Linked DNA regions of Homo sapiens: all the other regions are linked to region 1. The links come from fine-mapping of genetic effects on gene expression. A gene starts in region 1. Each other region holds a variant in brackets. All regions are shown on one strand. Distances are between the middles of the regions.

Region 1 (5,161 bases):
TCTATCAGCAGCATTCCCATGACTTATTATGGCCACCCATTCTCTCCCATACCAGCCTATTCACCTCTGCTCCCTTCTGCTTTTACTCTAAATCTCTAACTTTAATGTTTTCAAGAGAGATATGATTAACACAGAGACTCTTTTTGAGCCAAACCACAAGGTTACAAGTGTCTGAGTCACATAAGAATTGGTTGACCCTGGGTCAGGAGCCAACCATAGTCCAATCAGCTGAGGCCAAAAAGGCTGCAGTTCAGAACAAGGCCCTCTAGGCAGCAGGGCCTCTCTCAAAGGAGAATATTCCTTAGGAAAGGTAGGACTATATTTTTTAGGAAAGAAATATTTCCTAGGAAAGAAAAGTGTGGGCAGAGCAGGCAATGAGCCACAACGCCAGCCCCACAGAGTCATTATTTGTCTTCACCACAGTCCCAAGCACATGCTGAAGCTATAATAAACTGGAATCAACTAATCTCAGGGGAAAGGGTCATTCACTCACCAAGCACCACTATGGCCCTGACACTGTGCTGGACGCACAGGGAATACAAAGATTAAACAAGCAGCAGTCCTTGTTTTCCCAGAGCTCTTAATCCAAATGTGTCACTGAACTAGTTACTTGACCTTGGGCAAATTACTAAACCATATGGGCCACAGTTTCCTCAACTATCAGATGGCACTCCACCTTCACCAACCTCCAGGAGTGTTGTAAGTTTCCATAAAGTAATCTTTGTAAAAGTACTTTGGAAAATACACAAGCCAATCAAGAACAATACTGCAGCCCTGTAATCCCCTCACATGCCACAGGTTTTGCAGTGCTCTCAGACTTTTTCTCTTCCCCTTATTTCCCACAATATAGGACCCATCAATTGCTATTATTTAAAAGAACACCACCAACTATTACCATTCTACTTTCACTATCTCTATGACTAATTTCACTCAGAAGTGTAAAAAAAATGAATTTTTACAGTGTGCATTTTAAAAGTATAATGTATTCAACTGTGTATGTAAAACTATAATGCCCTATATAAGTATTTTTTGGGTATTACAAATGACAGCATGTACCGAATTCCTATGTAGTACACAGGCCAGTTTTGAATCTTGCTTCGTCTTCTCCCCACAGCAGTTTCATTTAATATTTCCTAAATACTGCAATCAGAAAATTTCAGGGACCCTATTTTTACAGGGAGCCCCTAAGGAGAAAAAATGGCCTGTCTCCATCCCTGAAATCCAATTCTCCTAACTTATATATTTTTCTAAAACCACTTCACCACCTGTCTCACATTAAAAGATGGAGGTGGGGAGGAAGAGTGGGAATCAGCGATGATGGCAAGATAGATTTCTGAAAAACATGTTATTCCACCCTCTGCAGGATTCAAGTACAGGTTTATGGGAGAGGACAAACAAACCTTGGGATATTTACAGTCTTGGCTTTGACGCGAGCAAAATCAAATAATATTTACAGAGTGCCTGCCACATGGCAGGCAGGATGTTGAGGGCTCCTCGGAGACGATGAAGAGTCTGGGCCCTCGGAAAGCTTACTTGCTTCTACCCCGGAGCATCTGTTGCTCAGTGTTGACAACCATGGCCATTCAAGAGCTGGCCCCAGGTGGAGCAAAGAAAACAGCTTCCACCTGGCTGAAAAGTCAGCTCAGCTGGCCGAAGTGAGGGTTTCGGGCAAAAGGGAAACACAAAAACGAAACCTCAGACGCGAGCCGGTGGGACTCCGCTGCAGGAGGCAGAATTGCAGAAGCTGTAATGCAGGGAACCCACTCGGCACCCGACCCCGATGAAGGCTCCCCGCGCTTCGAGAGCCAAGGGACTACGGATCAAAGGATCCTGCAGCCGGGGAAAAGCAAACTCGCTTCGCTGGGAGCTCAGATAGGGGGTTGCAAAACGGTGGGCGCCGGAGGCAGGGGCGGCGGGCTGGGGATCTGCTGAGTGGAAATCGAACTGGTGGGGAGGGAGGTGGGCAGGGCGAGTGAGCTCAGTGACTGGGACCTAATGGTCACACTGCGGTGCAAAGCACGCCTCGGGGCTCCCGCGGAGAACACCCATTCGAGGGTACTGGAGCCTGGAAAGGGTCTGCGAGTACACTGGGGGCAGCGCGGGGGGAAGGGTCCCCTAGGGGCCGGGCGCGACAGTCGGACTGCCGCCGGGGAAGAGGTAGGATGCGGTCTCTTCCAGGATAAACACACACGCTCACACACACACTCGCTTCCCGACCCCGGGCTAGCCCCGAGCCTCGGCGGCCCCTTACCTTCGGCGCGCGAGCGGATCTCCGACACGGTCCTCCGCATGGTGGGCATCGCGGCGGCGGCTGCAGGTGGGTCCTCAGCCCGGACTCTGCACCTGTCACGGCGTGGTACACGCGGGAGACCCGGCTGCGCCGCGCAGAGCGCTCAGCTGCAGCCTGGGCCGCGCCGCCGCCCACCTAGGGCAGAGCTGCCGCCGGGCGCGGCCCCCGCACGCCGACAGGAGGAGGAGAAAGGCAGCGGTGGCGGCGAAGGTGGCGGCGCCCGCAGAGCTGGGCGAGCTCTTGCTGCAGCCGCGGAGGGGCGGCTCGGCGAGGGGCGGAGCTCGGGCGCCGGCGCCGGGGGAGGGGCCTGCGGGGCTCGCGCTCCCCCTCCCGCGGCCGCTCAGCAAGGAAGGCGGGTGAGGGGCGGGGAGAGCCAGGGGGAGCCTCCTTCGCCCCGCCCCGCCCCGCTTCGGACCGTATCACGACTCAAAGGGGGGATCAACTCTTAGCCTCCTTAGTCCTCCAGCGTTTTCGCTCCGCCCTGTGGAGTTGGTTGACCCGGTTCCTCCTCCAGGCCACTCGGACTCTCTCACATCTTGCTCAGAAAGGAAAGACTGCTCTGGCTGCTGCATTCTCACGAATCCCCTCCCGCTACCCCTGGCTTTTGATCGCAGTGGAGCCGCCCGTCGTCCGGAAAGAGCTGTTGGGTCTGAGCCGGCAGGCGAAGGCGAAAGGGTCTGGGACTACAAGGTTTAGCTCCCAGCCAGAGCAGGAAAGGAACGACTGACTGTTCGCCATCTGGGTGTAATTCTAACCTCTCTGCACGCCCAGCCCGACTCGTGGCCTGAGCCGCACTTGTCCTCCTGCCTCGCCCACTAGCAACAGGCTGCCAGGTCGGGAGGCCCCTGGTGCCCATGGTGCTCTTGTCCATGGGGCTTGGGTGCATCTGGGCCCCGCCTGCAAGTGGGCCCGGTGCATCTCCCTAGTTCAGGCTCTGCAGCCTGACAAGGCACTGAAATAGCAATTAAGCCAACTAAGTATTGGCCCAGGTGGTTCACAAAAGACTTTTTTTTTTTCTTTTAGTTAAATCTGCATAAAGTTGGATGCAGTCGTTTTATCTGCAAAGGGGAGAGGAGTCTTTGTATAAAATCCATAAATATGTTAAATTTTAATTTGCCGATGTCCTTCAGACTATCATAGCCTCATTACCTTTTATTTTGTATACCGAGATCTATGCTAAAAAGTTGTCAAAACAAATACTTCACCTTCAAGTTAAGATGTAAGGTTTTGTGCTGTTTCTGGCGAGCTGCTGAACTGGCAGGAAAGGAATAAACCAGAAACAATAAATCAGAAGCAATTTGCTTCTTCCCTCATTTCATGCTCTTCCTCCAGCAACCAGCGAAAGAGATCCTCACATAGAGGCCTTTTATTTGAGATCTTTTCACATCCTGAAGGGAGAGAGCTGGAGAGGTTTGACCTGAGAGAGAAGTGATTATTTCCAAGCCTCAGGAAAAAATGAAATAAAATCTGCTAATAGCGTCCTATCTCCATTTGTGGTATTTCTTCTGCTTCCTGCAGGTAGCACTTGCTAATCAGAGCCCTGCCCTACATTAATACTCAGGCAGTCAATGCATATTTATGAAGAGCCCACTCTAGTTGGCTCTGATTCAGAGGCTGGAATTAGAACAAAGAAAATGTATTCTCAGTGTTCATGGAACATCTCAGGGTAAAGCAGGACTCAACAATAAATGAATCTATCTGTTTCAGTGATAGTCATGATTTAAAGTATGGTCTTCTAAACGTAAAAAATGAACACAGCTTTATCTGGACTGTCATCACTGGGCATTTTTATTTCTTCCAAGGCCCAGGGTCTCCTTGTATAAAGCAGGCTTGCTCTGGCTTAATGAACATGAGTCTGAAACAAAATTAAAGGGCTAACATAGCAAGGAAAATAGTAAAAATAATAATCAGCTTTAAAAGTTAGCGAACAGAAACTGGAGGAAATGCAGTGCTTTTCTGATTAACATTTTAGGTGTAATTCTATATGAAGCCATAACCAGTTCTTATTAAAAATCAGTGCGCAGCAGCATGACGATAGTTCATTTATGAGCAATCACCTTTGTAATTCCTAATTAGTCCTCAGATGGGGTTGAGGTTCAATTCTGCTTATTTACAAGTAATAACTGAAGGAACTCCAGAAGTTACCTCTGTTTTGTATAGAGCAATCCATTTTTTACATGTGTGTCCCATTAACTCATCAGCAAAGTTGAAAACGTCATTGATACAGGAAACAAGTCACTTATACAGAGAAGAATATTGCATGATATAGTCTATAGATTACCGTGTGTCCTTTCCCTGATATTATCACTTTATCCATAATGGCAAGCGTATCCCAACTACCTTATTTCTTAAAAACCACTCATTCCTGACTGCTAGAAATCACACATTTTTATTGGTTCAGAACTTGATTGAAGTTGAGGATTGCATTAATCTGCATCTGCTTGATTTTAAGGCTCTCAGATCGTCTCACCTTCTATTGTGTGAGAAGTGCAATGTGCCAGCCCCTGGCAGGGAACTCCGGTTCCAGCCACATGACTTTGTCACGGAATCTGTAGTAGAATTCAGATGTCAGCAAGATCATTTAAAATCTTTCAGGTCATATGACTATACTGCTGATAGACTTAGAAGGAAGAGGGTTATTTAAGGACAACTTCCCTAAGATCCAGGTTTTATCCTCCACAAAATGTACATTGAATACGTAACACGTGTGAGGTGCTGAGCCAGAGAACTAGGTTATAGAGGCACTTAATGAAAGCTAAACAGCAGTAGCAACAAGATGGCTAATATGTCATGCCAAATAGACAAGCAGCAACTATGGACTTTGAGAGAAAGCTAAGTTTCTAAGAGCTAGGGTGATCAACATTGTTGAGC
Region 2 (5,161 bases), 53 kb after region 1:
TACGTATAAACAATACTATTTTTTTCTGTCATATTTGCGACTAATAAATTTCAATGCTACTTTTTAAAGTCTTTTAAATTCAGTTAATGTTTATTAAAGGAGAGATATAAAATGCTTATATTGTCAAATTTACTAACCATAAATGTTGGGATTTTTTTCCCATTGCTTTTAAGTGTATAAAATGTTTTCTATCCTGAGATCCAGAGACTGGGATCAATAACCACCTTCATTTTCTTCTACTTTATTTTTTGTTTAACTTAATTAGGTATATGGTATGAGGAAAGTCTCTAAATCCGTAATTATTTTCTAAATAGCCACTGTAGATCTTTGTTATTTATTAATCTTTTTCTTTTGCATTGATTTGTAGTGTCTTATTCATTATATAATTACACAAACAAAAATAATATATGTATTTTTAACTTACCCTGTTTCACTGGTGCCAGAAATGTTTTTGTAGCAGAATATTTGCTTGTGATGAGGAATTTTGTTGAAAAGTATTTGGATGTCCTTCTGGCACAGTTATCACCATTTATTACCTAGAGATAAAAACATTTCTCTCTTTTTTAAAAAGTGAATTTAGAAAATGCTTCTCCACATGAATGTCCTGTAAGCACTTCAAACTCAGTATGCCCAAAAGAAACCCATCATTTTGTAGCCTCATTACAACTCTCCTCCTGTAATGTTTCCCAGGACGGTTAATGGTGTAGCTTTTATCCAATCTCCCTAGCTACAAACCTCAGCATCACTTTCCTTCTGCATTTCTTCCGCTATTCCCCAGTGTTTGCTAATCTGTCCTGCAATGTTACCAGAATCAGTTTTTTTTTTTAATTTTTAATTTTATTTTTAATTTAATTTTTTTTTGGAAGACGGAGTTTCGCTGTTGTCACCCAGGCTGGAGTGCAGTGGCACAATCTCGGCTCACTGTAACCTCTGCCTCCCGGGTTCAAGTGATTCTCTTGCCTCAGCCTCCCGAGTAGCTGGGGTTACATGCGGCTGCCACCGTGCCCGGCTATTTTTTGTATTTTTAGTAGAGATGGGGTTTCACCATGTTGGCCAGGCTGGCCTCAAACTCCTGACCTCATGTGATCTGCCCGCCTCGGCCTCTCAAAGTGCTGGGATTACAAGCGCGAGCCACCGTGCCCGGCCCAGAATCAGTTTTCTCCATTTGTTGCCACTGCCTCTACTCTCAGGGTTGCACCTTCTCTACCCTGGATGCTGAGAACAGCTCCAGCCTCTCACCTGTCCATCCTCTGCATAGGTATCAGTTATCTCCCTAAATTACAGATTCAAATACATTACTTCTTCTGCTCTTAATCCTTGAGTGGCTTCCCATCATCTTTGGAATAGAGTTCAAACTCATTAACATGATATTCAAAGCTGAACACAAGGTAGGTCTACAGCAAACTTTCTTTTCCCCACTCTTCACTCCTGGCTGCCCATGAAACCTGTGTTCTGTCACCCAGGTAAATGGCTCACCTTTACTTTTGAATATTTACACATCCTTTTCCCTTGAGCTGTTTTGCGCATAAACACCTTTCCCTCTCTGTTTGCATAACCCACACTTTAAGTCCCAGATCAAATATCTTTGGCTCTTGAAAGCTCTCCTTATCCATTCAGTCAAACTTAATTGCTGGGTGCTCTATGCTCCTATTGAATTTGTGCACACATTTATCATAGCCCAGATTACCTTCTAAATTATTTAAGTTGGAGTGTATCTGGTGAGACAGTACTTTTTAAGAGGACTAAACTGGCCATCTGTCTTTGTAGAAACAGAATATTACTTTTTTGCAGATTTTTTTTTTTGTTCTGGGGAATAACCCAAATATTTTCTCTTAGTTGTACAACTGCAAGGTGAATTTGCACCTGCAGTGTGAAGTATATGTAACTCCTGTCCCTCTAGTACCCCTCAACATTCAGAACTAATCCCTGGTGAAGAGGTAGCTATGTTTGCAGAGAGGCCAAGGAATATCCTGAGAAGACATAGGGAGATGCCATCTCTTTCTTTCAGAGGTTTAGTGGTAGAATTTTTCTGATAGGTTGAGAAGGTCCTGCTGTGGTTCCCAGTCACAAAAGCTGTGAAGGACCGAAGGGGAGCTCGCTGTGAAGAGGGAAGACCTTACTAATGACCCAGACTCATTACCACTGTCCCTGTTTGTGGAGGTCAGTTGTTTGTGATAGAGCTTGAGTGTGGGCTAGAAACTTCTCTGATCTGACATCCTGTCATGGTGGGTTTGTGAGTGCAAACTAAAGGAGATGAAACTTTGGGAGCCCAAGCACGAATTATCACTGCAGCCTCTTCAAGAACCTGACTCAGCAAGGATGACTTAGCAACCAAAAGCAAGGACACATTTTCGATAATGACACACCAGGTGGTAGCAACAAAAGTAATGAAAATTATAAACCAAGTTTCACAGTGCCCTGATCAAACTCTCTAATTTTGTCTTGTGAACTACAAACGGTCCTCCTTGAACTGAATAAATGCCTCTCTTCCCAAGACTCCTGTTGCAGAAAGAGCTTAGATAACTCAGAAATGGGGCAATTCAATTGTTAAAAGTGTGACCATATTTGTACTCCAAGCTGGTTAAG[C/A]AGGTTTTCCAGGTTACACTTAGTTGTGTCTCCCCAGTGACCCTGTGAATGTTGGCAATGTGGGGAATAATCTTTATATCTCTCTGGTGATGAGAACGGTGATTTGAACATTATAAATATTTGAATTGAATTGTTTCCAGCCCATGTTTATTTTAATGTTTATAACTACCATCATGAAACATGTAACATTTAAACGTTTTGTATAAAACCATACTTTCCATTTGCAAACATGCCTGTAGCAGGTATGAGCCATTTGATATTAAATATGAAGCAGAGCTGCCTCTGCTCTTTGGGTCCCAAGCTGCAGTTACTACTGTATATTATCATTAGCAATATAATAAACCTCTTAGATATACAGTGTCATTACATTTTTGAAAAAGGTATTTTTGCCTACTTTGGTTGGAACTGGAGAAAATTTCTTCACAAAGTCAGCCCCCAGTTCTCTAGTTGCAAGTTTTTCAAATTTGCTTGGTCTTGCTCTGTTGTGTAGAAATCGATTACCATTCCCTGCAACTTAAAATATCATTTTTCTTGTTTAGAGAGGAGGTTTCTAAGTGTGCCCTACTATTGGAGAACGTTTATGCTGACCACCTATAATTTAGAATACATAAATCTGCTCCGGGGAACTTGTGCTGGCTCAGCATTTTCCTCCTAGTTCGTCAAAGAGCCTTTTGTGCCAGCTCTACATGGTCCTTATTGTTAGTTTCTTTTCTCTATTGTTGGCTGTTTACATGAAAGGAGATTCAGTGGATTGTTTGAATTTAACTTTTCATACCCTCTGTGAAACCACGTGCTCTATATTCCAGTGGTAAATATAATATCCAGTGGTTTTACTGAAATTTGCAAGAATTTTTATTAAAAGACCTACAGAGGTATTTCTGTAGGAAGCCAGTGCTGATCTAGCTACAATTCTATGTATGTACATTTATATATATGAATGAGTATATGAATGTATGTATCCCTCTCTATCAAACCAAGTATCTAATGGCTAGTAAATGTTTAACCATAGGATCTCCAGGCAGAAAAAAGCTCTAGTTATAAACTTTGTCAATTTCTGTACCATAGCTTCTCCCACTGTGGCTCATTTCAAGCTACCAGTATGTCAGCATTGAACACAGAGTTGGGAAGTGATGCACTGGAGAACACTTTATATGGTATTTTCACCATATAGACACAAAAGACTTAAGTCCCAGAGCACAGATAAAAGTACATAGTAAAATAACTAGAAAGCAGTCACTTTTGAGTATTTATAATCTTTGTTTGAGTGTAATTTATTTAATCATAAGCTTATGTAATTCAGGTTTTTTTGTTTGTTTGTTTGTTTGTTTTTTTTTTTTTTTTTTTTTTAAGATGTAGTCTCTCTCGGTCACCCTGGCTGGAGAGGAGTGCAGTGGCGCCATCCTGGTTCACTGTAACCTCTGCCTCTCGGGTTCAAGCGATTCTTCTGTCTCAGCCTCCCAAGTAGCTGGGATTACAGTTGCACGCCACCAGGTCTGGCTAATTTTTGTATTTTCAGTAGAGACAGGGTTTCGCCATGTTGGCCAGGCTGGTCTCGAACTCCTGACCTTGGGTGATCCGCCTGCCTCTGCCTGCCGAAGTGCTGGGGTTACAAGCATGACCCACTGCTCCAAGGCTGTAATTCAGTTTTTAATAATGGTCATGTTTAAGAACCACTTGCAAAATTCCTGAAAATTTAGCAGTTGGCTTACAGTTGGGATAAACTGGCTCCCATACAACACTGTATTAATCTATATACTTCTATCCACTTCCTTCCCTTTTCTAAGAAGAGTGGGCTCCTGTGGATGGGGAGATCTTTGTTTAACCTCATGTGTAGATAAGCTGGTATGGGGGATGAAGTAGGACTAAATTGCTGAGTGAGATAAAGGATGAAACTTTTGTGTGGGGGCAGTTGAGCACTAAGATTTTAGGAAGCTGGAGGCAAGAGTTAGCTTGTTCTATGATAGAAGGATGGAAAGGAACATTCCTTTCTTCCTCATTATGAAAACCATGGGGAAGACTTACATACTTTATTTATTTCATGCAAAGTTGAACTATTCAAATTTGGAATAGTATGATATAAAAATATTACTAGCCTCTTTTGTAATAGAAAGTTTAGAATATTATAATATACTGTTACATTTATTCCTATGGGATAATTATCTTTCCAGTTTCCTGAGTAGAATGACTGGTGTTTTCAGAAATGCATCAATCACATAAAACACTGTAGTTTGCCATCAGGTACTTGATGCAAATTCCTTTTTTCATTTCTTATATGAAATCTTTGGTAAAATCTACATTGCTTAGTAATGTCTTTAGTGGGAATGGATTCTGTTTGAGAGGAAAATAATGTAGAGTTCTAAATCATAGTTGAAGTGACTGAGACTATATGCTGGGTTATAAGAGGTATTTGAAAACAATGTTATCTAAGGCTGGAAATTAAATTACATTAGATGAAGTACAGAATCATCTGTTAAAAACCTAAATTTAGGCGGCATAGCATGGTGCTTCAGAGTACAGATCCTATAGCCCAACTATTGGAGTTCAATTACAGATTCTATCACTTATTACCTGTGTG
Region 3 (5,133 bases), 63 kb before region 1:
TATTTCATGAGGTTAATGTAGATTCAAAGGAGCTAAGTAATGCTAAAACCCTTTGAGGAAAAAAAATACTGAAAGGTGGTACTCTGCTACTTGGATTGAAATGTCTAGCAGCACAGCTTTTATTTTGAATTCTACTCAATAACAAAAAGCAATGAATCAGATAATCTTTTAAAAATATAATCTTGGAGGAAGTTAATCGCTGTGGAGACCATATTAAGACACAGAAACTATTTCGATAAATTGAAATTCATAGCCACCAGTAAGTGTTTTTAATGCTTATAAAACAAATTCTGTAAAAGTGGTCTAAAGTTTAAGAAATACAAGTAGCTTGCTGGGGAGTTTCTGAAGTTGGATAGAGTCAGACGGCAAAGATTTTGAAAATTTCCAACTTAAAATTAAATACAAATTCAGGGCAGTATAGTCGATTATCTTCACATTTTTGAGCATCAAAAATAAAAATTGTATTTAACGGTTCAGCCTATATGATTCATTCTATAATTATGTCTCTAAGAGTTTAATTGGGAAAACAATACTTTCCCAAATTGTTAGAAGGTGTTACTATCATTTTGAACTTATATACAGTCACGTGACAATGACAGGTGTAGCTTCTGAGGAATGCATTGTCAGGCATTTTTGTCACTGTGTGAGCATCATAGAGGGTACCTATACAAACCTAGATGGTATAGTCTATAGGCCATATGGTATAGCAGATTGCTCCTAGGCTACAAACCTGTACAGCATGTTACTGTATGGAATAGTGTAAAGAAACAGTAACACAATACTAAGTATTTGTGCAATAGGAATTTTTCTGCTCCATTATAATCTTATGGGACCACCGTTGTATATGTGTTTCGTAATTGACCAAAATGTTGTTATGCAGCACAAGACTTCAAACATTCAGATGGCCAAGTGTCCAATACATTCATCACATTTTTACTTAGTAAAACTGAATGGACACCATTCTGTAAGGTACTCTTAAAGCTTATCAATTTAAACAAAAAGAATTGGGGAATATTGGAATTTGATCATTTAATCCATCTTAATATAAAAGATGTGAAATCAAGGCATGAGAGATTAAGCAGTTGGTTCAAAATCACCAAATCAGAATAAGAATCCTGGCTTTTCACTCCCTAAAGAGAGCTCTTTCTAGTGCCTGATACTACCTAGAACCTGAGACAATGACAATAAGCTCTCCCTCAAGCTAATTCTGAAGACGCCAAGAATGGACGGTTAGCTTCACTCAGTTTTAGAGATTTATCCTGATAAAGTTATAAGCAAAGGAAACTAAGAACAGAGGGGGTGATTTGAAAACATCTATATTATTTTTTCTGAAAACAAAAACCTATAGGTACATGGCACAAAATTATAGAAATATAACTACCTGCAGTTACTTTAATTGGTTGTAGACTTACTTCTATAAATATCTAGTATAAATACTTTTATTTGTTAAGTTTCGCTAACTTGTCATGAATCAAATCACTTTAAATGATGACCTGATTAAATAAATTTTGAAAAAAGGACACTGTCCATATTCATATGTGGATTTACAAATAAACCTGTCCAAGGAAATGATGATAAACAACCTCTAAAATATTAAAAACAATTTTTCTTAATTTAAAATAGGACTAGTTTATAGTTTTTAAACCTAAAACCATTTGAAAGTCACATTCTTTAAAGAGTAACAGTGCCATATGTTCTGACTACTAATTCATGATTAAAATATGAGTAAAATGAAAATTATTTAAATTAAGTAACTGAAAGAACTTAAAAGAAAGAGCAAAGTACTTTTGTGTTGGAAGAGTATGGCATTTCAAAAGGCATAATGGCAAAAAGAATCATTCATCCATTTTTTTATACCATTCCATCATAATAATCAAGAAACTCTGTAGGGATTTATGACGAACAAGGACTGAAAGATAAAAAATATCAATAGAACCCAATCCATGTATTATATAAAATAAATGACAGGAAATCTTAAAAGAGTTATGATCCCCACAAAAGATCTGGATAGATCCAGAGGGAGAGTAGACTCTTAATTATATTTGAATGATAAAGTATAGTACCTATCACTTATTCTATATGGCAAACATGAAAAAGCCCTTTAAGTCCAATCAATTTTTTAAATGTTTAAATAAAAATTATTAGAGAGGTTTTAAATTCTTCGTTTATTCCTTATTTCCTTGGAGAAATCACAAGGTCAATGCAGGGTAGAGAAACCATCCTCTACACTGTTTGAGCATCAGTAGGCATCTCTACCTTGATGAGAGAAGTACAGTGTCAGCAGGTATATACTCTTTGCCTTTTATTATAACTATATCTCCAACATTTACCTGAAAGAAAACTGGGAATTGGTTAATTATCTGCATTGAAAGATAGTTACAAATATACAACCCATTGTAAAAAGCATAGAATACACAGTAAAAATGGTTATCGGCAAACAAGAACCACTTATCTTCACAAAATGGAAGAAAATTATCTAGGAGTGAGACCAGGGTTGGAGGAATCCTTTAAAAAAAATGAACATTGTATATTGGATATATAACTTATCTTGATAAAATCAATCTATTCTATCCACTTAATTGACACCTTAACTTCTCATATCCTCTCTGACATAAAAATATAAAGGAGGGATTTACCAATATAAATCTTTATCCTATTGAAGAAAATCTCAATGCAACTGGAGACGCTATCATATATAATTGCTCCTCACAATAACGCTTGTGAAACAAGTATTGCTTATAACTCATCATTTGGAGAGAAAGAAAATGAGTTTGAGATTCTGAGATTTTTGCTCAAGATCATGGGGAGTTGAAGAGCTTAGACTCAAATCCACATTTGACTGTCTGCAAATCCTGATTTTGCATAATTTTGTGAAACTATCAATGTATTTTAAATTAAAAATTAATCTCTTCATTGTACTACCTCTTAGCATTTTTCTGAGCCTGGCATAAAGATAAAGAGATACTATTTTCAAAAACTGATAGCAGTCATTTAAGTGACAGATGTGTCA[C/T]ATAGCTTTTGGCAAACAACACAGTAACTAAGCAACAACTTGGCTTAACTGAGTTGACCAAGTTACACTGTTAGCCGCTCCCTTTACATCATGAAAGTTGACCTCTTAGTAGACAAATGAGACTAAACATGAATTTCAATACTTAATAGATGGAAAAAAAAGACTTTCTAAATTAAAGCCTGTTTGTTCTTCCCCCTCCCTACTTTTCCTTGAACTCTAAAATAACACTATGAGGGTAAGAACAGAATAGTGTCTTTTGTGGGAATCATAATAAGAAATTACTGCAGAGGCAGCCCACTGCAGTCTATTATTTACCAAAAGAAGAGGTTAGAAAAGGTTGGGGCAGGGGTATTGTCTTTTTATTTATGACACGTATGCTTAAGTTCTGGGTCCCTTGATTCAAAAAATAATTCAGCTGAAATCTGAAAGTTGGACTAGCTGAAACTGGCAAATTACCAGGGATCTTGGAATCAAACACCCCCTACCTCAAAAAAGGGCAAAGAGGAAAAATTAAAAACTGCAAGTATAAATGTAAACTGGTCCTTAAAATAATGTGCTGTGATGGTACTGTGATTACACTCACTGAGAAAGATAATAAAATGTAAATTCTCTGAAATCATGGCACTTAGAATGCATCCAGGTTACCATTTAATTTTCTTTAATCAACTCCTGTATGTTAATGTTTCCTCTTAAATTCAACTGTGTGCTTCACAAAATCAGAATCACGTCCTCTACACTATCGTGTTAGAGTCTAACAGTCAGACTTAAACAAATCCCTAATTGATTGTGCTGCTTTCCAACATCTTTACTCATTGTAAGACAAAAGAAGGGCTTGTGGTTCCTAAACTCAATAAAATAGTAACAATTTATATGGTACCCCAGTGGCCTGGGAAAACCAGGGGCTTACTAAATGCTGAAGTTCTTACTAAAGCATGCTAAATCAATGACTGCTAAAGTTCTTTACTGTAAGGAAAGTAGGGAACTTAACTCCTTAGAATGTCTATGTTTAAGATCAATTTCTCAAAAGACATCCAAACACCTGTCTTTCCTTTTGGATTCTGAGCTCCTAATACGGCATTCCCCTTCCAGCCTAGTGTGTGCATAAGAGGAACCAAGAGAAGAAAAAGTCAAGATGACAAAAATGCTTTAATCATACATATTCTAATTGGAGGAATGTCATGATAAAGCAATTTTAGTCCCCAAAATGCCAAAGTTAAGGAAATGTTTAGGGCTTTCAGTCCACTACCTACAGCCTTCTGAAGTCACTCATATTTGCAACATCAAGGATTATGTAAAATAGTAAGATTATCAGACTGCAATAGCCTGATTTAAAAATCCAACTATTAGCTGGGCATGGTGGCTCACACCTGTAATCCCCGTACTTTGGGAGACTGAGGCGGGCGGATCACCTGAGGTCAGGAATTCAAGACCAGCCTGGCCAATATGGCGAAACCCTGTCTCTACCAATACAAAAATTAGCTGGGCATGGTGGCAGGCACCTGTAATCCCAGCTACTCAGGAGGCTGAGGCAGGAGAAACGTTTGAACCCAGGAGGTGGAGGTTGCAGTGAGCCGAGATTGCGCCACTGCATTCCAACCTGGGCAACAGAGCGAGACTCCATCTCAAAAAAAAAAAAAAAAAAGAAAAGAAAAAAGAAATACATATTGTGGTGGAAGCTTCATGCACAAAAGTGGCTTTACAGAGTAACTTTTACACATGCATACAGCCCACCATGCTTCCTTAATAAGCCAGAAGAATACGTTGATTCCAAGATTCTTTGGCTAAATTCTCCACCTGCATACATCTCAAAAACCTGTGAACAGTGTTAGCTGCACCTCATTGTAAAGAAATAATCTGTGGCAAGAGCAATGAAGCCAGCAGCTTACCGTTCAGGAGTCACAATGTAGTTCCTTGTGTAGGGCTTTGTGATTACCATACTTTCTTTTAAAACTATGTATCTGCAAGTTAACCTTTTGCAACAGGGAAAAGGTTTCAGGGCAGTAACTGGAGAGATAAACCACTAATATCTGAGAGCTGAAGTCTGCCCAGCTGTGAATGATTAGATGCATGCTAGGCAAATTTGTAGGTCCTTTGAGGATCATTAAAGAGCAACCACAGTAGCC
Region 4 (5,161 bases), 160 kb after region 1:
GAGGGTAGTGTGGGTGCAGATGCAGGTAGCAGGCAGATTTGTTGGAAAATTAATGAAAATTTCCTCCAGTGGTCTCTACATTTTCAGTAAAATGTGAAGCAAGCTGAGAATGAGGAAAGGGAGAATGTGCTGGAGGTTAGAAAAGAGGAGAGGCATAGAATAACCATTTTAGAAAGTGAGAGAGTAAATATACTAGAAGAATATCGTAGGATTATCAGGCAGTATTGAGTATCCATTGGAAGTCTGTAGTAGTAGGCTCACCCAATATGGCAAGCATCACCATTAGACCCAGAGAAGAGCAGTAGCTTGAGACCAGTCCTTTAGAGAGCACTGTTCTGGCCCTTTCTGATATGACCTCTAATGAGACAAAGAATCTATGAGCTTGAGGGGACATGGCCACCAGGAGCTCTTATCCTCTCCTCCTCTATCTAGATTATGTTCTGTGTACTTGGGATCCTGGGGTCCAAATGACCCTGATCCTATTTCCAGGGTCCATGTTGGATACTTTTCTGAGTCCTTCCTCCTTTGGGTGGGCTTCCCTGCAGGTGTCTGCACTTTGAGGTCCTCGCTTGCAGGGATGTGATGGAACTTGCACATGTAGGCTGGGCTGTCCATGTATGTGTGGAAGGCCCCTCACAGTGTCATGTGCAAGTAAGATGGGAAAGGTCTGGACTGTGATTTGAGGGCTGGGGACTTGTTTTCTGGATACCATCACATTTTAGTCAGTGTGAAATTCAAAGAAGTCTGAGAATTCTGTTTGTCCTTGGACTTCCAGGTAATTAAGAACATATTTGTCAACATAGGCACATAAAACATGACTATATTTAACAGTTTATTAGCTTGATATATACATTTTCAATATTTAGACATGTGATATGTAACTCCTCTTGCCCCAGGCTCCAGAATGTTTGGGGTGCACCTGAGCATGACCAGAGATACATAGCAGTGCTGTCCAACCGGACTTTGTGCAACCATGGAAGTGTTTCTATACAGTACAATACAGTAACCCCTAGCCACATGTGGCTATTGAGGCTTTGAAATGTAGTTAGTGAGACTGAGGAAGTGAACTCTTAATTTCATTTAATTTTAATTAAATTTAAATAGCTACATGTGCTTAGTAGTCACCATTTTGGACATGCAGATCTATGGACTTGTCTCTTTTTCCAAGCAGCTTTCTAGTGATAGAGGCCAATTGGGTTCAGTTCTATCACAATAATGACTCTTTTCCCCTCTGCATGGTCTCACCAGAGCTTGTCAGGTCTCAGAACCCACTGGCCTCTACCAGGCTCACACCCTGTACTATTCCACCTTGCTGTCCTTTCTTGGTCTGGAAGAACACTTTCAGTCTCCCCAGGGCTTGGATAATTTGAATTCCTGCTCTATTCCATGCTTTGTTATGGAATAAACTATCCACTAGTTACTACTTCCACTAGAATCTTCCCTTTTACAGCTCAAGATATGTATTTTTTTTTTGTTCTCAACAAAATAACACTCTGCAAATCAATGACTTTGACTTTCAAAGTGATTGCTTCTGATGAGGACTTCAAGAGTTTATTCTGTGAACTTAAAAAGAATACCCTGAAAATTGATTGTTCTCTTTTTGATTTTCTATTATAAAAATTCTGACTCCTCAAGGTCGTAAGAATTCTTCTTCACTATCTCCACAAAGGTTCACATACAATGTGCTTTCTGAAAAGTATAAAATTTAATATTTCATGACAAAGTATTTCAAACAGAAAGTGACAAAAGTTTTTGTGTGCTTGTACCAGCAATAATACTCTAAAGATGTCCATCACTGTGATAGGAGAGTGAAGCAGAGGTGACTTAGAATAGAGATGGGAAATGTGGATGAAGCTGGGTATACCCCTTGTGAACCTCCACTTTCAGTGGGCACAGGAATGTGTGCTCCTCTCCCATGCTGGAGTATAGGGAAGCCAGTGAACTCACAATAATATGAGATAGACAAAGCTATGAAGGAAATAAGTGAAGATTGCTTTAATCCCTCCATTCTTTTTTGAATTGCTCAGATCACATGTGCCACATTTCCAGAACTGCTAGAGTTCTTCTCATTTCTCTGCTCCTTGACCTCAAAGCACTTATAGTATATTTGGGGAGACAGGTACTAAACAATGAATATTTATACAAAAATATAATTAGAAATTGTCCAAGAGCCATAAATTGAAAGGAAAGAATGCCACTGGGGAGAATCATGGAGCTGTAGAGGAGAGGCTGAATGTGAAGTGATGTTTCTACAGTGTACGAAAGTTGAGTAGGGATTAGACAGAGTGGGAGGAAGAGAATTCTAGGGCAAGATCCTGAGGAAGCAAAGGGGCTGGTGTGTTGAGGAAGAGAAAAAAGGACCGTTTGCTTCAGGAAGACCGAGTGGTGACAGAGTGATGTGAGAGGCAAGGTTCGAGAGGAGGACAAGGGCTTAGGAATGATTAGAAGCTGGGCTATTATTCTAGGTGCAGTAGAGAAACCACCAAAGGGTGTCATGCTGGTGGCAGGGTTACAATGGGATCA[C/A]ATTGACACCTTACAACGATTACTCCGGCTGTTGTGCAGAGAAGAGGATGAGAAGGTAGGAGGCAAGAGTGAAGGAGGTGAGAGCCCACTTAGGACACCACTGACAGAATAAAGCCAGAGAGGGTCATGTGTGACAGAATAAAGCCAGAGAGGGTCAGAGTACTGACAATGGAGACCGAGAAAACTTGACAAATTCACAATATATGTTAGGGCAGAGTCTTTCAACCTTGGCCCTTGTATTAGTTCGTTTTCATGTTGCTAATAAAGACATATTCCACTAGACATATTCCACAGTCCATTACAGAGACTGGATAGTTTACAAAGAAAAAGAGGTTTAATGGACTCAGTTCCACATGGCTAGGGAGGCGTTACAATCATGGCAGAAGGCAAAAGACACATCTTACATCGCAGCAGGCAAAAGACAGAATGAGAACCAAGTGAAAGGAGTTTCCCCTTACAAAACTATCCGATGACATGAGACACTACCATGGGAAAAGTATGGGGGAAACCACCCCCATGATTTAATTATTTTCCACTGGGTGCCTCCCACAACACATGGAAATTATGAGAGCTGCAATCCAAGATAAGATTTGTGTGGGGACACAACCAAACCATATCAGCCCTCTTGAAATTTTGGACCAGATAATTATTTGTTGCGGGGTTTGTTCTGTTCATTGTAGAATGTGTAACAACATGCCTGACCCCTTCTTCTGCCGGTAGCATTCCCCAGCCCAACCCCCAATGCCCTCCATCAATTTGTGAAAACTTAGAATGTCTCTAGACATTGCTAAATATCTCTTGCATAGTAAAATTGCCCTCGATTGAGAGCCACTATATTAAGGGGACAATTCACAGATACAAACAGCAGATTAGATGTGGAAAGATAAGGAAATGGAAGGTGTCATGAATGACATTTATTTGATCAAGGAAGTAGGTGGATATGTGATTATAGGAATGCAATGACTTGAGGAGACTATTTGGGGCATGTGTAGAAATATTAAGAGTTTGTTTTAAACACAGTTAATCTAGATGCCTCGAAGACTTCAAGGAGAGATATCAAGGAGATGGTTGCTTATTGTACTAAGAGATCTTGGCTGGAAATATGAAGAGCCATGGGGTTTGGATGTGATCACTGATAGAGAGAATGTAAATGAGAACAGAAGAGCTTTGGGAATTGAATATAGAAAAATCTATTATTTCCAAAACCAGCAGAAAATGTCATGAAAAGGGAAAAACACCCCAGCATGCTTTTCAAGAAGAAGAGAGTAAACTAAATTGAATATGACTCAAAGTTCTAGTTATATGAGGATTGAAAAGTGTCCATTGGAATTGGCAAAAAGGGAGGTAACTGTAAAACTTAGCTGGTGGGTAGAGATATTTAATGGAATAGAAGGGGCTGAAATCATAATGGGGTGGGCTGGAATGAGAATGAAAGTTGGAAAACCATGTGTGTAGACTATTATTTCAAGAGTTTTTTCCAACCAAGTGAGGAGGAAGGAAGCAATTAACTAAAAGGAGAGGTGGCATTGGCAGGGGGTTTCGGGGGGGTGCTTTGTAAAAACATGATAGTAAGAAACATGATTCAATTTTGCTAGGAAATGATCCAGTAAATAGTAAGAGAAGTTCAAAATAGGGGAAAGAGAATAACAGATTCACCAAAGTTCTCTGGTAGGTATGACACTTTTGGCTAGTAATTTGCTAGGGGAAATATACTTTCTTTATTATAACAGAGAAAATGATAATATTGATCATGATAGCTAACATTTATTGAGGGTTTATGATATGTCAGGCTTCTTACATGTTTTATCTCATTTAATCTTCTCCCCCAAAACTTATGAAATAAATCCTGTTAGTATACATACTGGAGAAATGAGAAAACAGGGTTAGAGTAACTTGTTTAAGTGGCAGAGCTTAGACTGTAATGGAACTCATTCCTGAATCCAGGTTAAGCCAACTTATTCCAGAGCCTAAGCTCTTAAAAGAAGCAGAGAAAAGGAATCCTGTCAATTAACCTACCAAAGAATTATTAAAACCCATTAACTCTTGCCTATTACCTTAAAGTTTTAAGACCAGCTTAATTTGAATGAAGGTTACCTCTCACAGTGAAATACTCCATGCTTCCCTATACTTGACCCTGTCCTAAAGTGATGACTGGTTTTCTCTCATCTTTTATTTTTTACTCAATTTGTTTGTTTGTTCATTTACATTTTTCTAAAGGAATCTTCTACACTAACAGCGAGCAGGTCTGGGCTCAGAAAAGATAGCCTGTCCTTTGAGTGGAAAGAATTACTCAGGGTGCTTACTTTTTGAGCTGGATTAGACACTGAGCAAATGTGTTTCCTGTTCTGGGCTCTAGGCCCTGCTTGCCAGAGCAGCTACGAATACTTATTACAGCCTTCCAGAGGCTGTTCGCAGAGTCTCCGAGATTGGTTAGTAATTGGCATAGAAGAAAATGCCATTGGCTTACCTTACTCTGGGCTTTTTGTTTATAATGCTAGCTTTATTCTCAAATCCTGGCAATGATTCTTTTCTAATAAGCAAGCATTCTCTGATATTTGATACAGTATCAAGCAGTACTTGTCCTATCTTGACCTTAATTTTCTTTTTAATCATTTACTTGAAGGACCTCGTGTGTGTG

The links.
Region 2: its variant is fine-mapped to the expression of ATP8A1 in nasal epithelium (TOPMed, PIP above 0.99).
Region 3: its variant is fine-mapped to the expression of ATP8A1 in atrial appendage (GTEx, PIP above 0.99).
Region 4: its variant is fine-mapped to the expression of ATP8A1 in subcutaneous fat (GTEx, PIP 0.99).

Annotation. Positions count from the first base shown.
Region 1 is chr4:42,654,574-42,659,734 of GRCh38, forward strand. It overlaps ATP8A1 (ATPase phospholipid transporting 8A1), which reads right to left and starts at 2,532. Exons shown (of 37, transcript NM_006095.2): 1 at 2,252-2,532. The coding sequence starts at 2,300. ATP8A1-DT (ATP8A1 divergent transcript) reads left to right here and starts at 2,950. Exons shown (of 1, transcript NR_186688.1): 1 at 2,950-3,774. RefSeq lists enhancers at 1,719-1,768, 2,759-2,968 and a silencer at 2,259-2,728.
Region 2 is chr4:42,707,268-42,712,428 of GRCh38, forward strand. No RefSeq gene overlaps it. Among named protein-coding and RNA genes, the nearest start is that of ATP8A1-DT, 52 kb to the left of the region's middle. The variant C/A (reference allele first, on the strand shown) is at 2,587.
Region 3 is chr4:42,592,033-42,597,165 of GRCh38, forward strand. The region is part of intron 6 of ATP8A1 (ATPase phospholipid transporting 8A1); the gene reads right to left. Among named protein-coding and RNA genes, the nearest start is that of ATP8A1, 63 kb to the right of the region's middle. The variant C/T (reference allele first, on the strand shown) is at 3,011.
Region 4 is chr4:42,811,511-42,816,671 of GRCh38, forward strand. No RefSeq gene overlaps it. Among named protein-coding and RNA genes, the nearest start is that of GRXCR1, 79 kb to the right of the region's middle. The variant C/A (reference allele first, on the strand shown) is at 2,524.